5 separate regions of the Homo sapiens genome follow, and regions 2, 3, 4 and 5 are each linked to region 1. The links come from fine-mapping of genetic effects on gene expression. A gene starts in region 1. Each other region holds a variant in brackets. All regions are shown on one strand. Distances are from middle to middle.

Region 1 (6,379 bases):
CAGCAGCTATCAGCATGAGGCTCTGCCTTCTTCACTGAGTCTTCTCCGCTCAGACTCCAGGGTCCCCATCATCTCCCTGGCCAGTCCCTTCTCAGTCCCTCTGCCTCTACTTCCCCCCTAGTCCAGTAACTGTCCCTTCTCCACCCAGCCTCACGCAGGCAGGGGGAGAGTCTCCAGCCCCGTGGCAACAAACAACATCGATTCACTGGCAACACTCCACTTTCTCTCTGAGGTCTTCATTGCTCCTTGGTGCAACAGGGTCACCCTCTGCCTGATGCCTGCTCATGGATGGGCTATGCGGACCTGAAGCCCTGTGCAGGCACCTCTGCTTGCCTGTTGCAGTCACCATCCCAAAGTCATCCCCATGAGCTGGCCTCCCTCTGTTGGGGAAAAGCTGGGTGTGGGGAGAGAAGCTGAGGCAGGGCTTGCATGTCTGCTAGACTTGCTGGCTCCTTCCTTCTAGCACTCTCATTATCTCAAGTAGCCATATGTTTCAAAGAAAATGCTAAACTGTCACAGCTGTAGCTCATTTGCTTGATACACCGCTTCCTTTCAATCCCCACATCCTCACCACCTGTTTCTTTGTTTGATCACCAATAAATAGCATAGGCTCCTAGGGCTAGAGGCCTTTGCAGCCTCTATACTAGCGTTGGCCCCCTGGTCCCACTTTCTCTCTTGCCTTTTCTCACTCCTTTGACTCCGCCAGACTTTGTCGCCCCCACGGCCTGGTGTTGGGTCTGATCACCCCAACATCCCTCATTCCCCACACCCACTCCATCTACAAGTCCCATGAGTTTTACTTCCAGAATGCTCCTGAATTCTAACCCCTTCTCTGGGGTACCTTGCTTCTGCCCTATTCTGGGTCACCAATGCCTTCCTCATAAACAATTGCCACAATCCCCAACCACTCCCCCTACTCCCACCTCCCACGCCCAACCTTCCATGCAACAGACCCCAGCAAGTCACCCCGCTTCCTGTGCGGTTGAGTACAGCAGCCACGGTGGCCATTGAAACTCACTAACACGAAACCAAACATTCAGTTCTTCAGCTGCCCCAGCCACGTTTCAGATGCTCAGTAATCACACGGGGCAGCTCGTGGCTGCCACATTGTGCAGCACAGATTACAGAACATGCCCATGGTACTGGCAAGTTCTATCGGACAGTGCAGGTCTAGAACCTTTGAGCAGCTTTTCCTTGCATTTAGAATAAAACCCAAACTTTGTGCAGGCCTACAAGGCCCTGCCTCACCTCTGATCCCACTTCCTACTGCCTACACCAGCCTCATCTCCCAACCTGGCTGCTCCTCAAACAGAACTTTGAAGCCTCCTTGTCCTTTGCCTACCTGGTCCTTGTCCTTAGGACCAGCTCAGGCATCACCTCCCCTGGCAAGCCTTTCCCCGAACTGTGCCTTCTCCCACAGGACACACACACCTTTGCTATAGCCGGGCTGTGAATGCCTTATCACTTCCTCCCCCATACACAGGCATCGCTCTCGGTGACCTATCTGCCCTCCAGGCCATGCACACATCTGGTTCCTCATTCCACCAGACCTGGTTGAGCACTTACTCTGAGCTCACTATATGAGAGACATAGGGGAACAAGACAAACAGGTCTGTGACCTTGCAGAGTTTAGATCTAGTTGGAACAGACACTGAGTGGGGGATTACAGAGTGTTATGTGTGTCTAAACCCCATGCCCATGCCCATGCCCTGCTGCATTCCTCCCTAGGGAGGGATGGATGATAAGAAAACTCTACAGGAAAGGCCCAGAGGCTCAGGATAGGGGTGCTTTCAGGGAAGTCCTGAGGAGAGAACAGTGTCCTTGGGGCCAGAAGAGGCTGTCCCACAAGGGAGAAAGCCACTATCTGGACGTGTCCTTGTGCCTAACAAAAAGCCATTTGCTATGCCAAGAGAACAGAGCATGCAAACTCAAACTAAACAGCTTCAGAGTTTACTTAGAGACAGGGTCTTGCTCTGTTACCCAGGCTGGAGTGCAGTGGCGTGATCCTAGCTCACTGAAGCCTCAAATTCCCAGGCTCAGTGCAATCCTCCCACCCCAGCCTCCTGAGCAGGTAGAACTACAGGCACGAGGCACCATGCCAGGCTAATTTTTAAATTTTTTTGTAGAGATGGAGTCTCACTATGTTGCCCAGGCTGGTCTTGAACTCCTGGGCTCAAGCGATACTCCTGCCTCGGCCTCCCAAAACACCAGGATTACAGGCATGGGCCACTGTGCCTGCCTTTATCATACCCATTTTAAAGAAGAGGCCATTGAGGGCTGGGTGCAGTGGCTCACACCTGTAATTCCAGCACTACAGGAGGCCAAGGCGGGCAGATCACGAGGTCAGGAGTTCAAGACCAGCCTGGCCAACACAGTGAAACCCCGTCTCTACTAAAAATACAAAAAACTAGCTGGGCGTGATGGCAGGCGCCTGTAATTCCAGCTACTTGGGAGGCTGAGGCAGCAGAATCACTTGAACCCAGGAGGCAGAGGTTGCGGTGAGCAGAGATCACTCCACTGCACTCCAGCCTGGGCAACAGTGTGAGACTCCGTCTCAAAAAAAAAAAAAAATAGGCCACTGAGGATGAGAGCACTGCTCAGTATGGCACTACTGGGATTCCAGCCCCTTTAGTGGCCAGGGCATCATTTGCATCTCAGTTTCCTCACATGCAAAATGGGCTATTTGCAGCCTGATGGGAAGGGGATGAGAAGGTCCGCTGGGTCCAAGGGACCAGGATGGCAGGAGGTTAGCAAGGCCTGCAGAGGGCAGCAGTGAGCTGCGCACCGCCCACCCAGCCTAGAAACTGGGGCCCATGGGTTTTCCAGGGCAGGAATGTTCTCCAGGGGCACTAATATTAACAGGCAATCACGAAATCGACCCCTACACACCATTTATCAGGTTGTGTTTTATGTTTGCCCCATCTGGGCATTTTATGCAGGATGCTCTCAACATTTTGTACCGTGGCCCACAGGACTGGGTGGAAGACAGGACAGCTCAGAGCAGGGAGTGAAACAAAATCTTTGATGGTTCTCTAGGGAAGCCTGGAAATCTGAGACAGGGCAAAGAGCAGGGAGTCTGATGAGCACAAAATTAAAATACCCAAACCAGCCTGCCGGGTCAGGGGAAAAGGAAGCAGGATTGGGCACATGAAGAACAGATGACAAAACTGAGGCTCAGAGAGGCTGAGAGAGACACTGCTGAGGTCACACAGCCAGGAGTCGGCAGGAAGCCCTGAACCCAAGCAGGGCTGGCCTGGCTACTAGCCTGGGCTCAGTCCTTTAGATTGGACTTCAAAGTATCTGCTCCAGATGACGCTGGCATTGGGAGGAGGGCATGATAATCCCTAACATCCACACAGGGACAACAGCACTTGGAGGCAGATGTGCTTCTCACTTCAAGGAAACTGAGGCAGAGAGGGAGAGGTGGTCAGGACTCAAGCCCAGTAATTCATTTGCCAAATCCTGTTTCCTTTTCCCCCAACCCAGCGGGCTGGTTTGGGTATTTTCAGTTTGTGCCCATCAGAGTCCCTGCAGAGTGCTCTCCACTGTGTCTCAGATCTCTGTGTCCCCAGAGAACCATCAAAGGTTTTGTTTCACTCCCTGCTCTGGGCTGTCTTCCACCCAGCCCTGTGAACCTCAGTGCAGGTTGGCCGCCCCCTTAGAGGGAGGCTAATCAGGGAAGTTCTGAGTCAGGTCGTCCTGGAAAAACTACATTGACCTCTGGAGCTCAAGAGAGGCCAGGGGACAAACACATGGCTCAGCACACAGGAAGGCAGGTGTGGGTATTGAGTGACCTGAGGGAGAAATCCCTATTTATCATCCATCATGTGGTCCTGCTGTGACAAACCCGTGTGGCAGCCACCCACAGCAGATCCACAACGTGAGAGGCCCGCTGAAACAAGGGTGCTGGCATTGGTTACTCAGCCTGGCCCTCCCTGCCTTGCGGGGTGACCTGCCTGGTCCTGGCCTCTCTGTGAGTTGGGCCCTGCTGGGTGGTCCCTAGTGTGCCCAGCCCTGAGGCTGGTGAGAGGCCAGGCTGTGAGGTGTGAGGAACTTACCTGCGTCTCCATGGAAGGTGCCCTCCGCATCGTTGGGCCAGATCTGCCTGGTCTTGCAGATGCCCACGATGGTGGCCTCTGACACGACGACTGGGCAGTGCCGGTGACGCTTATGGCACTGCGGCGTGGTAGGGGCAGAGGGGGGAGGTTGCTTCTGTCGGAGGACTGCTGCGAGTTCTGCCAGAGAGAGCAGCTCTTGTCCCGGAACATGAGGTAGGTGGTGGGGCTTGGGGACACGCGGCTGGACTGGCCGGAGAAGTCCTCCTGGCCGGAGGGGAGCCAAGTGTTCCTGTTCCAGGACTGCAGAACTGGCCCAGACCTCTGTATTGGAAAGGTCTTTATGGACCAGGGAGTCCGGTGTCTTTTTTACGGGGGACCCCTGGGCTGCGAGTTGCACAGTCCAATTCGCTGTTGTTAGGGCCTCAGTTTCCCAAAAGGCACAGGGACGGGGGGAGGGTGGCGGCTCGATGGGGGAGCCGCCTCCAGGGGGCCCCCCCGCCCTGTGCCCACGGCGCGGCCCCTTTAAGAGGCCCGCCTGGCTCCGTCATCCGCGCCGCGGCCACCTCCCCCCGGCCCTCCCCTTCCTGCGGCGCAGAGTGCGGGCCGGGCGGGAGTGCGGCGAGAGCCGGCTGGCTGAGCTTAGCGTCCGAGGAGGCGGCGGCGGCGGCGGCGGCACGGCGGCGGCGGGGCTGTGGGGCGGTGCGGAAGCGAGAGGCGAGGAGCGCGCGGGCCGTGGCCAGAGTCTGGCGGCGGCCTGGCGGAGCGGAGAGCAGCGCCCGCGCCTCGCCGTGCGGAGGAGCCCCGCACACAATAGCGGCGCGCGCAGCCCGCGCCCTTCCCCCCGGCGCGCCCCGCCCCGCGCGCCGAGCGCCCCGCTCCGCCTCACCTGCCACCAGGGAGTGGGCGGGCATTGTTCGCCGCCGCCGCCGCCGCGCGGGCCATGGGGGCCGCCCGGCGCCCGGGGCCGGGCTGGCGAGGCGCCGCGCCGCCGCTGAGACGGGCCCCGCGCGCAGCCCGGCGGCGCAGGTAAGGCCGGCCGCGCCATGGTGGACCCGGTGGGCTTCGCGGAGGCGTGGAAGGCGCAGTTCCCGGACTCAGAGCCCCCGCGCATGGAGCTGCGCTCAGTGGGCGACATCGAGCAGGAGCTGGAGCGCTGCAAGGCCTCCATTCGGCGCCTGGAGCAGGAGGTGAACCAGGAGCGCTTCCGCATGATCTACCTGCAGACGTTGCTGGCCAAGGAAAAGAAGAGCTATGACCGGCAGCGATGGGGCTTCCGGCGCGCGGCGCAGGCCCCCGACGGCGCCTCCGAGCCCCGAGCGTCCGCGTCGCGCCCGCAGCCAGCGCCCGCCGACGGAGCCGACCCGCCGCCCGCCGAGGAGCCCGAGGCCCGGCCCGACGGCGAGGGTTCTCCGGGTAAGGCCAGGCCCGGGACCGCCCGCAGGCCCGGGGCAGCCGCGTCGGGGGAACGGGACGACCGGGGACCCCCCGCCAGCGTGGCGGCGCTCAGGTCCAACTTCGAGCGGATCCGCAAGGGCCATGGCCAGCCCGGGGCGGACGCCGAGAAGCCCTTCTACGTGAACGTCGAGTTTCACCACGAGCGCGGCCTGGTGAAGGTCAACGACAAAGAGGTGTCGGACCGCATCAGCTCCCTGGGCAGCCAGGCCATGCAGATGGAGCGCAAAAAGTCCCAGCACGGCGCGGGCTCGAGCGTGGGGGATGCATCCAGGCCCCCTTACCGGGGACGCTCCTCGGAGAGCAGCTGCGGCGTCGACGGCGACTACGAGGACGCCGAGTTGAACCCCCGCTTCCTGAAGGACAACCTGATCGACGCCAATGGCGGTAGCAGGCCCCCTTGGCCGCCCCTGGAGTACCAGCCCTACCAGAGCATCTACGTCGGGGGCATGATGGAAGGGGAGGGCAAGGGCCCGCTCCTGCGCAGCCAGAGCACCTCTGAGCAGGAGAAGCGCCTTACCTGGCCCCGCAGGTCCTACTCCCCCCGGAGTTTTGAGGATTGCGGAGGCGGCTATACCCCGGACTGCAGCTCCAATGAGAACCTCACCTCCAGCGAGGAGGACTTCTCCTCTGGCCAGTCCAGCCGCGTGTCCCCAAGCCCCACCACCTACCGCATGTTCCGGGACAAAAGCCGCTCTCCCTCGCAGAACTCGCAACAGTCCTTCGACAGCAGCAGTCCCCCCACGCCGCAGTGCCATAAGCGGCACCGGCACTGCCCGGTTGTCGTGTCCGAGGCCACCATCGTGGGCGTCCGCAAGACCGGGCAGATCTGGCCCAACGATGGCGAGGGCGCCTTCCATGGAGACGCA
Region 2 (4,693 bases), 140 kb after region 1:
CTGCTGTCCCTGCCGGAGGCCAACCTGCTCACCTTCCTTTTCCTTCTGGACCACCTGAAAAGGTAGCCCAGCTCTCCCATGGCAGCCCAGGGCTCCAGGTCCCCAGGCCGCAGAGTGCCCCTCTGCTCCCACTAGACCCCCAACACCGAGGACCTTTTCTCCTGACCCTTGTCTGCAGTCACTCACTGCCTTTGGCGACTAGTGCCACTGCCACCCCTGCCCCAGCCTCTCTTCTTTGCCACCCTCCTCTCTCTGCACTGTGGCCTTAAAAAAGAGCTCAGAGCTTTGGCCGTGGCCAGCAGTGCACTTGGACCCCCCTCTTCCCTCCGAGTCACATCAAGTAGGAGACCTCCCCACCAGCCCAGAGCTGGCTCCTTGTCCTGGGCCACTGAGACCCAGAAGTACCAGGGCTGGAGTCAGCTTGCAGCACAGCCAGGGTCGAGGTCACTCCCTTCCTGAGAACTCCAGCACAGCCCAGCCCCTCTGCCTCTCTCCTGGGGGTGGCGTTGAAACAGCACCCGCTGCTTTGGTCCTCTACAGGGTGGCAGAGAAGGAGGCAGTCAATAAGATGTCCCTGCACAACCTCGCCACGGTCTTTGGCCCCACGCTGCTCCGGCCCTCCGAGAAGGAGAGCAAGCTCCCTGCCAACCCCAGCCAGCCTATCACCATGACTGACAGCTGGTCCTTGGAGGTCATGTCCCAGGTATGGGAAGACAGGCTCCAGCCCATGCAACCCTGACCTGACAGAGGTGGCCTCTGCCTGCCCCACCCCCAGTCCTGCCCATCTTCTTACTTGCATTGTATGTGGTGTGGCCAACATTCACAGAGAGGGACTTGCCTAGGTCTGCATGGATGGGAGTGATAGTGGGGGCCCAGGCCACCTCCTGGTCCTGCTAGTGCACTTTGCTGGAAGCTTAAAACTACCTCAAGTGTTCGGGTGTGGTGGCTCATGCCTGTAATCCCAGCACTTTGGGAGGCCAAGGCAGGATAACCAATCCCAGGTGTTTGAAACCAGTCTGGGCAATGTGGCAAACCCCATCTCTAGAAAAAATAAAAAGAAAAATTAGCCAGGCATTGTGGCACACATCTGTAATCCTAGGTATCTGGGAGGCTGACACAGGAGGATTTCTTGAGCCCAGGAGTTAGAGGCTGCAGTGATCCATGATGGAGCCACTGTACTCCAGCCTGGGGGACAGAGCAAGGCCCTGTGCATCTCTAAAATAAATAACCACCCCCCACCCAACAAGTCATGCCTTGTCAGGACCCCACCCCACCCCCATCTCACTGTAAGGGGTTCATGACACCAGCAGGGGTCCCCAGCACCTGAGATGGACTTGGAGGCTTGGGCCCCAAAGACCTCCCACCAGCAGCTGTGAGCCCCGCTCTGAGCCACTCTTCTCTTCCCTACTCTGCCCGGGCAGGTCCAGGTGCTGCTGTACTTCCTGCAGCTGGAGGCCATCCCTGCCCCGGACAGCAAGAGACAGAGCATCCTGTTCTCCACCGAAGTCTAAAGGTCCCAGTCCATCTCCTGGAGGCGGACAGATGGCCTGGAAACCTCTGGCTAATCGGGCCATCCGTAGAGCGGGAACCTTCCTGAGGTGTCCTTGGGCCACCCCCAAGTGTTGGGCCATCTGCCAAGAGACAGCGACCCAAAGCCGAAGGACAGGTGGCCTGGAAAGATCCCGCCCAGGTCTGGGAGCCCCAGGCTGGCCTCAGACTGTGGTTTTTTATGTGGCCACCTGAGGGCGCCCCAAGCCAGTTCATCTCGGAGTCCAGGCCTG[G/A]CCCTGGGAGACAGGGTGAAGGGAGTGGTTTTTATGAACTTAACTTAGAGTCTAAAAGATTTCTACTGGATCACTTGTCAAGATGCGCCCTCTCTGGGGAGAAGGGAACGTGACTGGATTCCCTCACTGTTGTATCTTGAATAAACGCTGCTGCTTCATCCTGTGGGGGCCGTGGCCCTGTCCCTGTGTGGGTGGGGCCTCTTCCATTTCCCTGACTTAGAAACCACACTCCACTTCTAACAGGGTTTGAGAGGCTTAGTCAGCACTGGGTAGCGTTTTGACTCCATTCTTGGCTTTCTTTTTCTTTCCAGAAGGATTTTTGTGCAGAAATGGGTCTTTTGTTGCCATGTTAGTCCTCCTTGGAAGGCAGCTCAGAAGGCCTGTGAAATGTCAGGGGACAGGACCCCCAGGGAGGGAACCCCAGGCTACGCACTTTAGGGTTCGTTCTCCAGGGAGAGCGACCTCGTCCCCCGATCCTGACCGCCCTTCCGGCCCACGCTCTCCTGTTTGGCTTCCACAGGCCTGGACTTCTCTGGCTTCTCTGCCCACACACTCCCTGCCCCCAGTGTCCCTGCCCCTGCCCCAGCACAGGTGACTTCATTTCTGTCCTCTCAGCTCAGTGGACTCGCTCAACTTTTGTATAAGTCTCCACTTGGTGGCAGCAGCTTGCTGATGACTTGTTTTAAAACTTTCATCCTAAATAACCTTTTGATACTTGAATATTTGTAAGTTTTATACATAGTTTCTAATTTTTTTCCGAACAGATCCAGATACCTAATAAGATGCTGGAATGTAATCCCTGGACAATCCGTGTCCTGGCAGCATTTGGTCTTCCTCTAAGCGCCTGGCTCCGCTGTTCTCAGGAGTGGGTTCTGAAGTCTCTGGAGAACAGGATACGTGGAGGGTTAGGAAGGGGCCAGGCCTAGAGACGGGAGACTCCCTCCCGGAGCAGGTGGAGGCACAGGACCATTCGCTACCCCATCTGCCGACACCTGCGGGGGAGCCCAGGCATTCTTTGTAAACCCTCCTGACCACCTGGCTCAAAGAAAACAGAAGCATGGAGACCGCCAAGTATTTTCAAGAAATAACCCCATGAATATTCCATCACTTTTTTAGAAAGAGGGGCTTGGGGCAGGCAGAGGAGAGAAGGGAGAGCAAACTGAGAGCCAAGTTTCCACACGGTCCTGCAGGAGGAGAGGATGCAGCTGCCCAGAGGGAAGCAGGATCACATTTAAGGAAGTGTGTGGGGTCCCTGGATGACACCAGCACCCAGTGCGGCTCTGTCTGGCACCCGCTCCCAAGGTGGGAGGAGTGGGTGTCCCCTGTGTGTCAGTGGGCAGCTCCTGCTGAACCCGCAGCTCACTAGGGAGCCTGACAGTGGGGCCATGCGCCTGACACTCCTCTCTGCTTGTGGACCTGGCAAGGCAGGGAGCAGAAAACAGCCACTTGAAGGCTTTCTGTCTGCGTCTGTGTGCAGTGTGGATTTAGTTGTGCTTTTTTCTTGCTGGGAGAGCACAGCCACCATTTACAAGCAGTGTCACCGTCGTGGGTGGCGAGGACAGAACAGGAGCCTCTGCTCTCTGTACCTATCTGGGCCCGGTGGGCTCCCTTGTCCTGGCTTCCATCTCTGTCTCAGCGACCATTCAGCCCTGCGCAGGAACACGTGTTGCTTAGAAAAGCCAAATCCAGCCTTGTCTCTGCCTCCTCTGGTCTCATGATGTGCATCTGTTACCTTGAAACTGGAAACCAGTCTATCAATGTCTGTGCCAATTTTTTATTCCCTCCCCAACCTCCTTCCCCATACGACTTTTTATTTATGTAGGATGTGTGCTGTCTAATGATGGGATGACCACACTTTTCCATGTTCTAAAAGTGCTCCTCTCCCGCAGGGTCCCAGGGCTGGTGGTTGCTTTGGGTCTACAGCTACGTCTTACCCACCTCCTGCCTCAACAGCCTGTGTGGTGGCAAAGCCGGTGTGGGGCTGGGGAACGCAGCGTTCTCCAGGAGGGGGACCTGGCTCTCCTTCTGCAATGCAGGCGAAGGCCTAGATGCCAGTGTGACCTCCCACAAGGCGTGGCTTCCAGACTCCCCGGCCGGAAGTGATGCTTTTTTGCCTTGGGCCCTGGGTTTGAAGCAGCCTGGCTTTCTCTTGGTAAGTGGCTGGTGTCTTAGCAGCTGCAATCTGAGCTCAGCCACCTACACACCACCGTGGCCGACACTTTCATTAAAAAGTTTCCTGAGACGACTTGCGTGCATGTTGACTTCATGATCAGCGCCGCTGGGAAGAACCCCTGAGCCGGTGGGGTGGGGCTGGAAGCAGCAGGTGCAGTGATAGGGCTGGGTGCCCAGGAGGCCTCAGTGCTCAATCAGGCCAAGGTGGCCAAGCCCAGGCTGCAGGGAAGGCCGGCCTGGGGGGTGTGGGTGAGCACAGGCAGGCACCAGCTGGGCAGTGTTAGGATGCTGGAGCAGCATCCGTAACCCCACTGAGTGGGGTAGTCTGGTTGGGGCAGGGACCGCTGTTGCTTTGGCAGAGAGAGATGATCCCCACTGGGGAGAGGCTGTTCTGACTCTGCAGGTGGGACAGGGACAGATGGCCACCAGGGTGACCCGGCTGGTCTTCCTTTGCTATGCTAAGCCCTGGGACATGGAGGATTCCTGCCACCCTGGGCCCGGGTTCTTACCTGTGGCCACCGCTCTGGCACGAGCCCCTCAGTCTTGGGTGGTTTCTGCCTGGTCCGGGATTTGGTGTTGCTGCTGAGTCCAGCCTTTCCACCACCTCCGCATGGGCCGTGGGTGTTGTCAGCTGCCTCCCGCCTTGGCTTCAGTAGCTCACCCAGCTTACAGGGGAGCTGCCCTGGGCTGGAGATGGGCATGCACCCTGGGTCCTACTTGAATGAATGCAGCTTGAGGAG
Region 3 (4,000 bases), 100 kb before region 1:
ATCCATTCATTTGTTCAGCTAACATTTACCAGCGCCTGCTGCATGCCAGGCACTGTGCCAGGTGCAGGGGTACAGCAGGGACGTAGCATCCACTCACAGTGCTCACACCAGACGGGCAGGGGTTGACAGTAACACATGTTACTAAGTGCTGCACTGTGGAGAACACTAAAGCAGAAGGTGGGGGACACGAGATGGGGGTGGGGGACTGACACAGTGCCATGCAGAAGTGCTGGGTGAGTGGTGTGGCTGAGCAGGGGAGAGACAGCAGGTGCAAAGGCGCTGAGCAGACACTCCCTGGCCCCTGGAGGCCCCACCAGAGTGGCTGGAACCTGGTGCAGGAGTGTGGGTGGGGTGTCAGGGCCAGGTCCTGCAGGACTCAGTGGGCCCCAATGAGGCAGGAAGACCTTGGCAGGGTTGGAGCAGAGAAGAGACTGGAGCTGCCCTCCCAGGAGGAGCTAATCTACACTTTGAAAAGATCTCTCTGCTGAGGTGGGAAAATAGGCTAGGGTGGGGTAAGGCTGGGGGCCATGAGGGGCTACTGCAACATCCCAGGCAGAGAGGCTGCTGACCCAGGGGTGGGAGCTCTGGAGGCCCTGAGAAATGCAGGTGGGAGATTTGTTTTTTTAAAGCTGCAGCTTTTAAAGGACAGCTGCAGTTTTGGTCTGAACCAGTAGAAAGATGGAGCTGGTATTGGCTGAGAAGCAAGATACAGAAAAACCCATTCTGGAGAGGTGGGGAATTAGGAGGTGGGTCTGAGACCTGGAGAGCCATTGATGGGCACATGTGGCCAGAGGGAGAGCAAGGCTGGAGGTGGCAACCTGGAGCCCCTGGCACTGAGGTGTGTGGCAGGCCGGGGACCACGTGAGGTCACTTAGGGATCAAGGGTAGGTAGGATCAGAAGAGGCTGAGCTGGGCTCCTGGGCCTCCACTGTGGGGAGGATGAGTTGAGAAGCATCGAGAAAGAGAGATTGAGGATTGACGGGCAAGTGAGGTGGAAGCACAGTCACAGTGGCGCCTCGGGAGGCTGGAGAAGAGCGGGTCCCAGAGAGCAGGTCCCCTGTGTCAAGCAGGCAGGGCATGCCCAGGGACTGAGCAATGCAGGCACAGCTGGCCACATGATTTTGGGGGCCCCCATTTGAAAATTATTAAGGGCCTGACATGATGGCGCACACCTGTAATCCTATACTATGGGAGACTGAGGTAGGAGGATCACTTGAAGTCAGGAGTTTGAGACCAGCCTGAGCAACATGTAAGAGCCTGTCTCTACAAAAGTAAAACTAAAATTATGCATTCCAGAACAGCAACAGCAGAGCATTAAAACTGTATGGATGCCCAAGTGAGTGCCCAGGAAGCTGGCTGGTCACAGGGACCTCAAGGATAATATTGGGGATGTAGTGGCCCCTGTGGAGAAGGAAGGCCTGGAGGGTGGGCCCGCAACCTGCCTGCTGCCCAGTCCCCACAGCATTTCTCCTCCCTTCCCTGAGTGGGCGGGTGGGTTGCGTTGGACTTTCAGGGCCGCTGGAGTCAGTCACACCCAGCCTGTGAGCTTCACCTTGGCACCATGGCCCAGGGAACCCAAAGTGAAAACTGCAGCAGGCAATTGCCTGCTGCAATTCTTCACTAAATGTCTTGCTTCTTGCCCCTTGGTCTGTGGACCCTTGGGCAAGAGGCAGCAGGAGGCACATCTTGAGGTTGAGGTTTAGATGGTCCCATCAGCAGGCCCTGGACCTACATGGCCACAGCTTCACACAGCA[A/G]TGGCTTCTTTGCGTTCATCTCTTTTCCAAAGGAAGCTGCCACATCACAGAGTTTTGAGTTATTTGCTTCTAAATTAAGGTATAACTCTCTTTTAGAGACGTCCCTGGAGAATCCATCAAAAAGTGCTAAGAAGCGAGACTGTTAAAAGCCACAGTGCAGGGAGGGGCCTTACACATAGTGTCAAGCCCGGGGGTGTTCCTTCTAGCAGCCTCCAACCAGAAACACACCCCGTCCCCGAGGGCTCAGCCAGGCCTCTCATGGCCATGGGGGACCGTGGTTGTGGTTAGAGCAAACCTTTCAGGAGACCCTTGGCCCCTGGGATGGAGAGCTGCCAGGACAGAGGTCCCTTTGTGAGGTCTGCCCCTGTGAGTCACGGAGGCCAAGGTCCTTTGTGAGGTCTGCCCCTGTGAGGTCTGCTCCTTTGTGAGGTCTGCCCCTGTGAGTCATGGAGGCCAAGGTCCTCTGAGGTGTGGAGAGTGGACCTCATGTGCCCAGTGCCTTAGTAGGTCTGGGCAGCCCCGCATCTGGGCAGCATGGTCCCTCTCACCCTGGTTGGTCATAGGAAGGGTGGCTGAGGAGGAGGCTGTGCTGGAGGCTGGCATGGCAGTGAGGGCTGGCTCTTAGGCTGTGGCCCTGCTCCAGACAGGGCTGGTGGGGCCTCTATGTAGAACAGCGCCATGTTCCTGACCATGTTTCCTATGCCCTTTCCTGCTGCTATTTTTTTCCCCTTAGCACTCGCCACAGCGTGACCTGCTCCCTATTTGATTCATTCATCGTATGTGTTTGTGTAAGCTCCATGAGGGCAGGGACGTTGCGGAGTCACCATTGAGAATCGCCACCCAGGGAGTCGCTGTGGAGGGACTGAATATTCGCAGACAGTCATGCCTCAGTGGCCCTGTCCAGCCCCTTTTGCCCTAGGGCTGAGCTGTGTGCTCGTGCGCTGCAGAACCCCTGCTCCAGCTCAACCCTCTGCTCCTAAGAGGTTGTACCTTTGGGTCCCCAGAGATGTGTCTCTGGGCCTCAGGTTTGGCCACCAAACACAAACCACCCTCAGGTGGATGCTACCAGCTGGGCCCCGTCAGGCCCAACTGTGGGTTACTCTCAAGCCAGAGGCAGGTGGACAGATGCCTCGGGCTGACGCCGGGCCACTCAGTGATGCAATGTGACTCAGTGGGGCCTTTGTCAGACACGGGGATTCACAGAGTGATGACCTTCAGAGGCATGTCTATGGAAAACTGTCCTAAGGGGATGAGCCAAGACCCTGAAGGTAGTAAAGGAACATGATGATGGTAGAGTGGCCTTTCCAGGTGGCCCCTGTGCCCCAAGATCAAGGAGTGGCCTCTCAGGCCAGTAGAGGAGCTCAGGGCAGGGGAAGGCACCAGGCCTGGGTAGAAGTCCAGCTCTGCCTGTGATGGTGACCCTGCGAATGCTTTCCACTCTCTGGGCCTTCCTTGCCTTTGAGTTGGAAGCTCTGGGCTGGGTCAAGTGTACAGATAGTTTCCTTCCTTATCTCAACTCTGGAGTGACCGTCCAAAGCATGCTGTGCTGAAGAGGATTCTAAGGCTGTGCTGCAGCCCAGAGGGAAAGAGTCATGGTCGATTAGTGATGTCTGCAGCGGGCACGGGAGGCAGGATTTAGATGAGCTTGCCAGTGACTGGTGAACCTCACCACTGTACCCCCTCCTATCTAGCAGCTTTAACCCACCCTATCTCTCCTTACATGCCCCTTCCTTAGTGACACTGATGCTAACCCCTTATTGGGAAGGACTGGCCTCCGTCTTCCTGAGTCCCATGAGCAGCTCAGGTCATTGCTTGCTGACTGTCTCTTCTCTCATTTGATGCCTCACTCCCTGTAGTGACCTCAGGGTCCAACCCCATGCTTCGTTCATGGCAGCCTCTTTCTGTACACTGAAGAATGAATAAGTGAATGAGTGGTAGAGACTCAACCACTCTACAAGGCCGGGAGCCTCCTCTTGGATGTACACCTGATGTTGATCTCTGTTCCAGCAAGGAGCCCCTAGAAGCCTTCTTGGAATTGGGAGGCTGGATGGCCACGGAAACAAGGTGCTAAACCGTGTGGTTTCAGCTCCAGGTGTTGCAGGAGTGGGGTCAGCAAGGGAGGAGGGGGCAAGGTGACTAAGGAGGGCTGAGGCATGTAAAGTACCAGGCTCTGTGTTTGTGGGGCCCGGTGGTCCTGTCTGACCTTGGCTATGGAGCAGCTAATCAGGCTTCCCCAGAGGCAAAGC
Region 4 (4,000 bases), 120 kb after region 1:
GGGAGACCGCCCGAAAATGGGTGGACCTCACTGCGTGGTGGGGACTTGAGAGCAGCTGCCAGGGTGCCACCAGGAGGGCCCCAGTCAGACCTGCTGGCTTGTACCTGGTCAGGTGCCCACATAACCCAGGCTGGCAGAGAAGTCTGGGAAACTCCAGCCAGCCAGCCAGAGCACCAGCTTCAAATGAAGCAGAGGCTCACAGTCCAAATCTCATCCCCGAGGCTCACATAAAACATTGGCAACAACAAAAATGAACTCTGATGCCCCCACTGGAACATGAGTTGTGAGCCCAGCAAGACACATAAATAGAGCAGGAGAAATGGGAGAAGACAAAAGTCTATGACTTGATAGAATGTTGCCCTCTAAGGAGAATAGACAGGGCTAACATGATTTAGCAACCTAGAAAATTTGCAGATGAAGAGAGATGCACCTGTCATCCTAGCACTTTGTGAGGCTGAGGAGGGCGGATCATTTGACATCAGGAGTTCAAGACCGGCCTGACCAACATGGTGAAACCCCGTCTCTACTAAAAACACAAAAAAATTAGCCAGGCGCGATGGCGCATGCCTGTAGTCCCAGCTACTCGGGAAGCCAAGGTAGGAGAATTGCTTGAACCAGGGAGGCAGGGATTTCAGTGAGCCAGGGTCGTGCCACTGCACTCCAGCCTGGGGGACAGAGCGAGACTATCTCAAAAAAGACAGAAAAAACCTGAAGAAATTCCTAATGGCAGCAAGGCTCCAATTTCCCCAGCTCTGCCAACTGTGGTGACTCCCTCTCTGGCCCAGGATGTGCAGGAGCACTGGGACTGTGTCTCAGGGCCCCCGTCCCTGTTGCGCTGCACTCGGCTAGGCTGCAGACTAGCCCTCCAGCAATGTGTCCCATACCCCGTCCCATGAATCTTGGATGGATGTTGATGCCTTCACCTTGAAAAATCCCTCCCTGAAGATACAGATTCAATGTCCCCTGCTCTGTGAAGGCTTCTCTGTCCCGTGACCTCACTTCCCAAGTAACCGTGCCATCTGAGCCACCAGTCAATCTGGGCCAAAGCCTGCCCTGGCTCTTGGCACATTTGCCACATCCTTCCTTTCCAGCTTCTCTGATCTAGACCATGAAGGCTGGGGAGAGGGGTCTTCTTGTTCTTGGGGACCCCCCCGCCAGGCATGGCACACAGGAAGCCTTCCATGACTAGGGTGGCACAGCGGGTTCCTGGTGTCTGAGGATGGACCAGGATGGCCTCGCTCACTCAAATGGCTCATTCAGGCTCGGGGCTGGCTTGGAAGGGACACCCGACTTGGGTCCTCTTGCACCTGCCCACACACAAGGACTTCAATTTGTGCTGTCAGTGGCTCTTTTCTGGACTGTGGGCACCACCACAGCTTTGTCCCTGCTGTACTGTGTATCCCCTTGCCTTTCTGGCTTGTGGCTCTGAACAAAGCAGGTCACCCATCCCAATTTCTAGAGCCCCCCCACCGCCACCCCCACCCTCATGGAGCCTCTATCGTGCAAGAAGGGAGGTGGGGACCTGGCAAGTCATCCAGGACAGGCATTTGAAGAGCAGGAGCCAAAATCTGAGACTCGGGCAAGTGGTTCCTAAACCCAGCTCATCAGCACCATTAAGGGGAGCAAAAAACCAGACCGGGCCAAGCCCCCAGCCCAGAAGATCCCGACTCCTGCTGCCCACAGACAGGCACATGAGCAGCTTTGCTGAGGACTCCTTTCCATCCCAGACCCCTGCCCTTGGGGCCTGCCAGGGACCTCTGCCCTCATGGTTGGATCTGGACACTCCCGGGATGCTGCGGCTTCTCTACCTGCTGCAACTGCCTCACCTCA[C/T]GGGAGGGTCTCTCTACGCAACTTCTGAGTCGAGGTGCATAAGCAGTGTGGGGGCTGTAGGCCCCTGTAGCTGGCTGCAGAGAGCCAAGCGCCTCCCACACGGTACAGCACAGAAGGCTCCTGGTGTCACTGGGAAAAGCCCAGATTCAAAAAGGCTGGGCTCCGGAGTCATGCACATCCTCTCTCAGGTATCCCTGTGCAGAAAACAGTGTCCACGGGGGAGAAAGAGGCCAGGCTGGTGTCGCAGAGCGCCAATGGCATAGTCACCACCACTCCTCCGACTTACTTCCTCCTGGGATCCCACAAACAAGCCCCCCAGCTGGGAGCCTGGACCTCCAGGGACCAGGGCAGCCGCCACCTACTTGGCGTGAGTCATGAATGCCCTTCACACAGCAATCAGATTCCTTCCTGTCTAGCCATGGTTCCCACCCATCACTCCCACTGACACAGGGACCAGGGGCTGGAGCCAGATAGTGCCTGCTCCATCGCCTCCTCACAAACGACAGATAAGGATGAGAACAGCAGCAAACGCTGACCCCCCACCCGTGAGAGCATAAGTCACTCAACCGTCAAGGCTGCATGGCCCCCCCCACCCCAATTTAATTCACCTGTGAGAGGGCAAGTGCCTGGCTCAGCAATTTCTAGTGCATGTAACAGTACTTGCTTTGTGCCAATATGTATTTTACTATATATATATAAACTCTAGATCCATTAAACAATGTATTATTACATAACTTATAGAGGTATGTTTTATGTCTCTGTCTGGGTACTGGAGATACCACAGAGAATGAACTGGACAAAGCCCTGTCCTCCACGTTTACTTTCCAGCAGCAGAGACAAACATAAGCCAAAATAAAGATCACGTCACAGGGGACGTGATGGGAGTCGGAGGAGGTATGGTCAGGTAAGGCGGATACCGTCATGAAGGCACCAAGAATCCTCATTTGTATTTCAAGGATTATCTGAGGGCCACGTAGGTCTTGTCCACACAGCCATTCACCCATTCAGGGGGGTCTCTGATGTGCCTGGGGGGCATTCCGAGATGAATGAGACATGCATGGTCCATGTGGCAGAGGCACCAATAGGAGAGAAACTTATGTATGTAGCCTCTTAAACAGACTTGGAGAGGGGCAGGCCCCAGGGGGTCTCTTGCAGCAGGAACACAAAATGAGTGATGTTTGTTTTGAACCAATATTTGGGGAAGATATGAAGATGTAAACATCATGAAAATGTAAGATCACATGAGCAAATTCTTACACAGATTCCACGGGATTCTTCTTGAAGCACACCGCCATCAACATGGATAGTGATACAGGTCCTCCTTGCTCTATTGAGAGCCACTTTTGGACCCTTTATTTTTAACTTTTGTACCATGAAATGCATCCATTTTTATAACCGAATGATTTTATAGTAAATTTACAGAGCTGTACAACTTTTACCAACAATCCAGTTTTAGAATATTTCTATCACCCCAATTTCCTTGTTGCCTTTTTTTTTTTTTTTTTTTTTAAGACAGGGTCTTGCTCTGTTGCCCAGGTTGGAGTACAGTGGTGCAACCACACTCAGCACAACCTTGATGTCCCAGGCTCAAGTGCTCTTCCTACCTTAGCCTCTCAAGTAGCTGGGACCACAGGCATGCGCCACCATGCCAGGCTATTTTTTTTTTTTTTTTTTTTTTTTGAGACAAGGTCTTGTTTTGCTGCCCAAGCTGGTCTCAAATTCCTAGGCTCAAGTGATCCTCCTGCCTTGGCCTCCCAAAGTGCTGAGATTACAGGTGTGAACCACCGTGCCCAGCCCCTGTTCCCAGTTATAGCCACTCCCAGACCCAAGCCGATCTGCTTTTTGTCTTTAGAGATTTGCCCATTCTTCACATTTCATAAACGTGGAATCATACTAGAGTGGGCTTTTTTGACTGATTTCCTCCACTTACCATTATGTTTTTGAGGTTTATTCATGTGGTAGCATTGTTTGGTTCCTTTTTATGATAATAATTTTCCATTGCATACATATAACATGTTTTTATTTCTGCATTTACTATTTGACAGACACTTGGATCATTTCTAGTTTGGGCTGTTAAGGTTGATGCAGCCACGAACATGTCCTTGGTACCAGTCTCTATATGGACGTATGTTTTCATTCACTGAGTAAACACCTAGTAAGATTGCTGGGC
Region 5 (6,379 bases), 140 kb after region 1:
AGGGTGACAGCACTGTCTGTCCCTACCCTCCGGGTCCTGTTTGAAGATCAAACCCATGCTCACAGGCCGATATTTTTTTCTTTTAGAGACAGGGTCTCACTTTGTCACCCAAGCTGGAGTGCAGTGGTGCGATTATAGCTCAATGCAGCCTCCAATTCCCGGACACAAGGGACCTTCCTGCCTCAGCCTGCCAAGTAGCTTGGACTATAGCTGTGTGTTTTCTTATTATTTTGTAGACATGGGGTCTGGCTATGTTGTCCAGGCTATTCTCAAAATTCCCAGCCTCAAGCAATCCTCCCGCCTCAGCCTCTCAAAGGTTGGGATTACAGGTGTGAGGCAAGGCACCCAGCTCAGCCACAGAGCCCTATTGCATCTCTCTTACTAAGAGCAAGAGCTGACTTCCCCCTCATCCCCATTCCAGAGTGTTGGGGCTGTGTTCAGCCGAGGCCAGGCCACTGGCATGGGCCCAGGGAGCGGGATCATTCACTGCTGCCCCAAATCTGAGATCATTCCACCTTGACAAGACTTCCTCATCCAATCCCTTTACTTGACAGCTGGGGAAACCAGTGCACACAGAGCACCCCCAGCTCAGTCAGGGTCTCAGAGCTGATCCATGAGCGGAGGCTGAGATCCTGGGATCTTGTCCCCCAGCCTCCCTGCAAGCTTACTCCCTTTCTTCTAGAAGAGATGGGGCCAGACCTCGACCAGCAGCCCTGGCCTGGACATGACTGTGCTCATGCAGGTATTGAGGCTGAGATGCCCCGGCATCACATTTTTTTCTTTCTTTTTTTCTTTTTTTTTTGAGACGGTGTCTCACTCTGTCACCCAAGCTGGAGTGCAGTGGAATGATATTGGCTCACTGCAACCTCTGCCTCCCGGTTAAAGTGATTCTCCTGCCTCAGCCTTCCAAGTAGCTGGGCCTACAGGCTTGTACCACCACGCCTGACTAATTTTTGTATTTTTACTAGAGACGGGGTTTCCTCATGTTGGCCAGGCTCGTGTCGAACTCCTGACCTCAGGTGATCCACCTGCCTTGGCCTCCCAAAGTGCTAGGATTACAGGCATGAGCCATGGCATCACTTAAACGTAGTGAGAGGCCGGGCGCAGTGGCTCATGCCTGTAATCCCAGTACTTTGAGAGGACGAGGCTGTCAGATCACCTAAGGTCAGGAGTTCGAGACCAGCCTGGCCAACATGGTGAAACCGTGTCTCTACAAAAAAACAGAAAAAAATATCCCTGCGTGGTGGTGAGTACCTGTAGTCCCAGTTACTCAGGAGGCTGAGGCATGAGAATCGCTTAAACCTCGGAGGCGGAGGCTGCAGTGAGCTGAGATGGCGCCACTGCACTCCAGCCTGGGTGACAGAGCAAGACTTTGTCTCTAAATAATTAAATAAATAAATACGGCCGAGCATGTGCCTTAGGCCTGTAATCCCAACACTTTGGGAGGCTGAGGCAGGTGGTTCATGAGGTCAGGAGCCCGAGACGAGCCTGGCCAAGATGGTGAAACACTGTCTCTACTAAAAATACAAAAATTAGCCAGCTGTGGTGGCAGGCACCTGTAATCCCAGCTACTTGGGACACTGAGGCAGGAGAATCGCTTGAACCTGGAAGGCAGAGGGTGCAGTGAGCCAAGATTACACCACTGCACTCTAGCCTGGGCGATGGAGCAAGACTCCATCTCAAATAAATAAATTAATAAATACAGAGCAAGATTCCATCTCAAATAAATAAATGTACACCTGTAATCCTAGCACTTTGGGAGGCTAAGACAGGTCGATCACCTGAGGTCAGGAGTTCGAGACCAGCCTGACCAATATGGCAAAACTCCATCTCTACTAAAAATACAAAAATTAGCCGGGCGTTTTGACGTTTGCCTGTAGTCCCAGCTACTCGGGAGCCTGAGGCGGGAGAATCACTTGAACCTGGGAGGCGGAGGTTGCAGTGAGCCAAGATGGGGTGACTGCAGTCTAGCCTGGACAACAGAGAAACTCCGGCTCAAAAGAAAAATATAACTTCATAAAAACGAAGTAGGAAGAAACAGAAAACCTTGTCTAGATCTAGAACCATTAAAGGAATTGAATGTTTATTTTAAAATCTGTATCCCATCCAGTCAAAAATCTCACAAAAAACAAAACCAAAGAAAAGCACCTGGCCCAGATGATTTTATAGATAAGTTCAGCAAACATTAAGAAGAACAGAAAGTCTTTATCTTCTACAGAATTTTTTTAAAATAATTTATTTATTTATTTATTTTTGAGAGGAAGTCTCGCTCTGTA[G/C]CCCAGACTGGAGTGCAGTGGCATGATCTCTGCTCACCGCAAACTCCGCCTCCCAGGTTCAAGCGGTTCTCCTCCCTCAGCCTCCACAGTAGCTAGGATTACAGGTGTGCCTGGCTAATCTTTTGTATTTTTAGTAGAGACGGGGTTTCACCATGTTAGCCAGGGTGTTCTCGGACACCTGACCTCAGGTAATCCACCTGCCTCGGCCTCCCAATGTGCTAGGATTACAAGCACGACCCACAGTGCGCGGCCTACATAATTTTTTTTTTTTTTTTTGAGACGGAGTCTCGCTCTGTCGTCCAGGCTGGAGTGCAGTGGCGCGATCTCGGCTCACTGCAAGCTCCGCCTCCCGAGTTCAGGCCATTCTGCTGCCTCAGCCTCCCGAGTAGCTGAGACTACAGGCGCCCGCCACCACACCTGGCTAATTTTTTGTATTTTCAGTAGAGACGGGGTTTCACCGTGTTAGCCAGGGTGGTCTCGACCCCTGTCCTCGTGATTCGCCCGCCTTGGCCTCCCAAAGTGCTGGGATTACAGACATAAGCCACCACACACGACCCCGGCCTACATAACCTTACAGAAAAAGAAGCAAATGGAATTCTCCCCAACTCATTGTGAATTTAATATAAGCTTAAAACCAAACCAGACATAAATAGTACAAGCAGGCAAAAGTATAGACTAACTTCTTATGGACATATATGCAAAAATGCTAAATAAAATATTAGCAAATAATCCAGCAATGGATTAAACATGTATCATGACCAAGTTGGGGTTTTCCTAGGAAACTAAGATGATGTAATAAAAGAAAAAACTATTAAAGTAGTACAAACTATCAAAGGAAAAAACCTGTATGATCATTGCAACGGGTTCATTTGCGACATAATATAATTTTTTTCTTTTTTTTTAAGTCTTTTTGGCTGTAAGTTTATTCAATGCAAAATAATCTTCTCCAATTTTACTGAGGTGGCTGACGGCGTCCACGACCAAATCTGCCTCTAAACTGGAATTCGGTTGCTGACCCAGCCGCAGCCTCGGCTTTCTTGTTGGCACCAGGGGGCATAGCATTCCCTCTGTAGGTATCTCTGTCGGCTTCCCCTCTCGTTGAGTCTTGCAGGTCGCTCACCCTCCAGACCTTTAGACTGAGGCCTGCCAGTCCATGGACGGCTGCGGCGTAGGGTGGCAGGCACAATCTCCAGGGGCAGATGAAGGTAATCACGGAGATACTGGATATCCTCATTGGTAAGGTACCAGCAGACATGACTCCAGGCAAACTGTTCCTTCATGTAGTAGCCTCGGGACTTGAAAGACTGCATGGCCTTCATGACATGAAGGTTGGGCACATTCTTCCTTTTTTTTTTTTTTTTTTTGAGACGAGTCTCACTCTGTCGCCCAGGCTGGAGTGCAGGGCCATGATCTCGTCTCACTGCAACCTCCGCCCCCTGGGTTCAAGCGATTCTCCTGCCTCAGCCTCCTGACTAGCTGGGGTTACAGGGAACAGTGTTTTCTTTTGTCAAAAGAGCCTCTTAAGCCATTGATAATATTTCCCAAGCTTGTAACAGATACAAGCCTTTAAAGAATGACATTTGCAGTCACCCAGTAGGACATATCTTGAGATGAAATCAGAGTTGTGGGCTTTGCAGACAACAGCAGTCATTTCTGGTGGCTTCCGGGAGTGGAGGGGGACTGCAGCTTTGGCAATGTAGGTGATACCAAAAGGACTATAGTAATTTTTTCTTAGTAATTAAAAACTAGGCTGGGCGCGGTGGCTCATGCCTGTAATCCTGGCACTTTGGGAGGCCAGGGTGGGTGGATCACCTGAAGTCAGGAGTTTGAGACCAGCCTGACCGACATGGTAAAATCCTGTCTCTACTAAAAATACAAAAATTAGCTGGGCATATTGGCGCGTGCCTGTAATCCCAGCTACTGAGGTGGGTGAGGCAGGAGAATTGCTTGAACCCGGGAGGCAGAGGTTGCAGTGAGCCAAGATCGTGCCACTGTACTCCATCCTGGGTGACAGAGCAAGACTCCATCTCAAAAAAACAAAACAAAAACCAGACATAACAAGGTCGAGCTCAGTGGCTCCCGCCTGTAATCTCAGTAGTTTGGGAGGCCGAGAAGGGCAGATCACCTGAGGTCAGGAGTTCAATAACAACATGGTGAAACCCGGTCTCTACAAAAAATATAAAAATTAGCCAGGCATGGTGGCACACGCTTGTGATCCCAGAGGCTCGGGAGGCCAAGGCAGGAGAATCACTTAGGAGGCGGAGGGTGCAGTGAACTGAGGTCTTGCCACTGCACTCCAGCCTGGGCGACAGAATGAGACTCCGTCTCAAAAAAGAAAAAAAAATCCCCAGCCATAACAATATACATGTATGTTATACAATAACCAAACCAATATAGAAGGGTATATAGTGAAAGGAGAAGTATTGTTGTGGGTAAAATTGTTTCTATGAATAAATGGCTGATCCAGTATTTTTTTCCTCCAAAAAAACACCTTTTCCCCTTTGATTTAGTGTATACCACACAGAGTCGCTTAGCCGATTCAGTGACTTTTTTGATAGCTGGAGAATGCTTCCTAATGGTTGCAGGTGTGTAGGGGTTTTCTTGACATTTTCAGTAAGAAAGTGAATGTTGTGCCATAGGAAAGCTTTATCACAGGTGCACGTTGGTAGCCAACCAAATAACGTGAGTGTCAAGTACAGTATCTAGTGAGTGGAGAATAACTGTAATAATTACAATTACAGTTGTAGTTAAAGTGAAGTTTGTATCAAAATTTCTGTTTCAAAGGTGAACTTTTAGGGGGTGTATCTGCAGTGTTTCCTCCTCAGATGTGATTTCTCTGAAGCAGTGGTTCTCTATAACTGACTTGACACACAGTGCATCTGATATTTCGAATGACTTAAGTGATAGTATCAAAATTACTATCATATACATATTTAAATCACATGACTAACTTGTGTGTGGTATTATGCAAACTGCTCAGCTCAGTAAGGGAACAGAAATAAGAAAAAAAAAGGACAATATTGGGAGTCTTTTATACAATTAAATTTGTTCGATTAAAGGACTATCCTTTCTAAAAAAAAAAAAAAAAAGTCCTGCTTTCTTGGTGTTAAAATAAAGCATCTTTTATGAAATGATGGTGATAGTAAATGGTGATATACAGTAAATGTAAATAATAGCAAATACAAGGTTAGTTATCTTATTGTGATTTGTAAAAATAAAGAGAGCCGAGAATCTCGTTTTGCTGCTATTGTTTGGGAGTTCAGGAAAAAGTTCCTGGGGCTTTTGTTGTTAAGAAGATTCAAATACAAATTATTTCTTAAGAGTAAATATGAGTTTATTTTGAGGTCATTTGTCACAGTCTACTGAGAAATCCACTGAGAAAGCTTTTAAGTTTGCCTGGTATTAAAGATGTTCCTATTCTGATCATTGTTAAATAGATCTTTTCTTATTAGATATAAAATGTCAGGAGATATTTTATTTTGAGACAGAGTTTCGCTCTTGTTGCCCAGGCTGGAGTCTAATGGCATGATCTCGGCTCACCGCAACCTCTGCCTCCCAGGTTCAAGCGATTCTCCTGCCTCAGCCTCCCAGGTAGCTGGATTACAGGCATGTGCCACCACTCCTGGCTAATTCTGTATTTTTAGTAGAGACAGTGTTTCTCCATGTTGGTCAGGATGGTCTGGAACTCCCGACCTCAGATGATCCGCCCGCCTCAACCCCCAAAGTGCTGGGATTACAGGCACAAACCCCCTCACTCGGCCCCAGGAGATTTTTTTGTGTTGTGCCAACAAAATAAGCCTAGGCAGGGAAATTCCTTCTGGTGGTTGGAATTGTTAGTACTGAATAGACTAGCTGCGAGGTAAAAACCCCCATGGGGTTTTCTGTCAGCTCAGATATCATTGTGACCCCAGTCTTTTGCTGTGAAATAACATGACCATTAAGAAAGTAGCCTTAAACAACGTATTTTGGGTATGTTGAGGAGGAGGGACAATTATGATCTGTTCCAAAGTGAACATAACAGATGATCCCTGTGTCTGTGAAGCCTTTAAAATTTATAGTGCTCTTCTTCTGTTAATTTCAAGTAAGATTTAGTTATTGTGACA

Alleles and levels. Alleles are on the strand shown, and positions count from the first base shown. SD is a standard deviation of normalised expression in the study named. Not every link is listed here.
For the expression in unexposed skin of the gene that starts at base 4,650 in region 1, allele G in region 2 goes with a higher level than allele A (moderate effect, 0.40 SD a copy in GTEx).

Evidence for each region.
Region 2: its variant is fine-mapped to the expression of BCR in unexposed skin (GTEx, PIP 0.97).
Region 3: its variant is fine-mapped to the expression of BCR in adrenal gland (GTEx, PIP 0.93).
Region 4: its variant is fine-mapped to the expression of BCR in whole blood (INTERVAL, PIP above 0.99).
Region 5: its variant is fine-mapped to the expression of BCR in putamen (GTEx, PIP 0.99). The same link has a PIP of 0.9 or more in caudate and cerebellum.

What each region holds. Positions count from the first base shown.
Region 1 is chr22:23,175,860-23,182,238 of GRCh38, forward strand. BCR (BCR activator of RhoGEF and GTPase) reads left to right here and starts at 4,650. Exons shown (of 23, transcript NM_004327.4): 1 at 4,650-6,379. The coding sequence starts at 5,102. It also overlaps a transcript of RSPH14 not described here and the pseudogene BCRP8. RefSeq lists enhancers at 510-609, 3,570-4,380 and silencers at 997-1,096, 4,501-4,740, 4,811-5,080, 5,101-5,180.
Region 2 is chr22:23,314,012-23,318,704 of GRCh38, forward strand. It overlaps BCR (BCR activator of RhoGEF and GTPase), which reads left to right. Exons shown (of 23, transcript NM_004327.4): 21 at 1-62; 22 at 541-703; 23 at 1,422-4,026. The coding sequence ends at 1,511. It also overlaps the pseudogene POM121L11P. Among named protein-coding and RNA genes, the nearest start is that of LINC02556, 10 kb to the right of the region's middle. RefSeq lists enhancers at 1-474, 1,611-1,905 and a silencer at 1,656-1,775. The variant G/A (reference allele first, on the strand shown) is at 1,782.
Region 3 is chr22:23,073,737-23,077,736 of GRCh38, forward strand. All of the region lies in intron 4 of RSPH14 (radial spoke head 14 homolog), which reads right to left. The region is part of intron 1 of GNAZ (G protein subunit alpha z); the gene reads left to right. Among named protein-coding and RNA genes, the nearest start is that of GNAZ, 5.2 kb to the left of the region's middle. RefSeq lists an enhancer at 3,614-4,000. The variant A/G (reference allele first, on the strand shown) is at 1,755.
Region 4 is chr22:23,300,614-23,304,613 of GRCh38, forward strand. All of the region lies in intron 16 of BCR (BCR activator of RhoGEF and GTPase), which reads left to right. Among named protein-coding and RNA genes, the nearest start is that of LINC02556, 24 kb to the right of the region's middle. The variant C/T (reference allele first, on the strand shown) is at 1,831.
Region 5 is chr22:23,319,309-23,325,687 of GRCh38, forward strand. It overlaps the pseudogene RPS10P30. Among named protein-coding and RNA genes, the nearest start is that of LINC02556, 4.1 kb to the right of the region's middle. The variant G/C (reference allele first, on the strand shown) is at 2,277.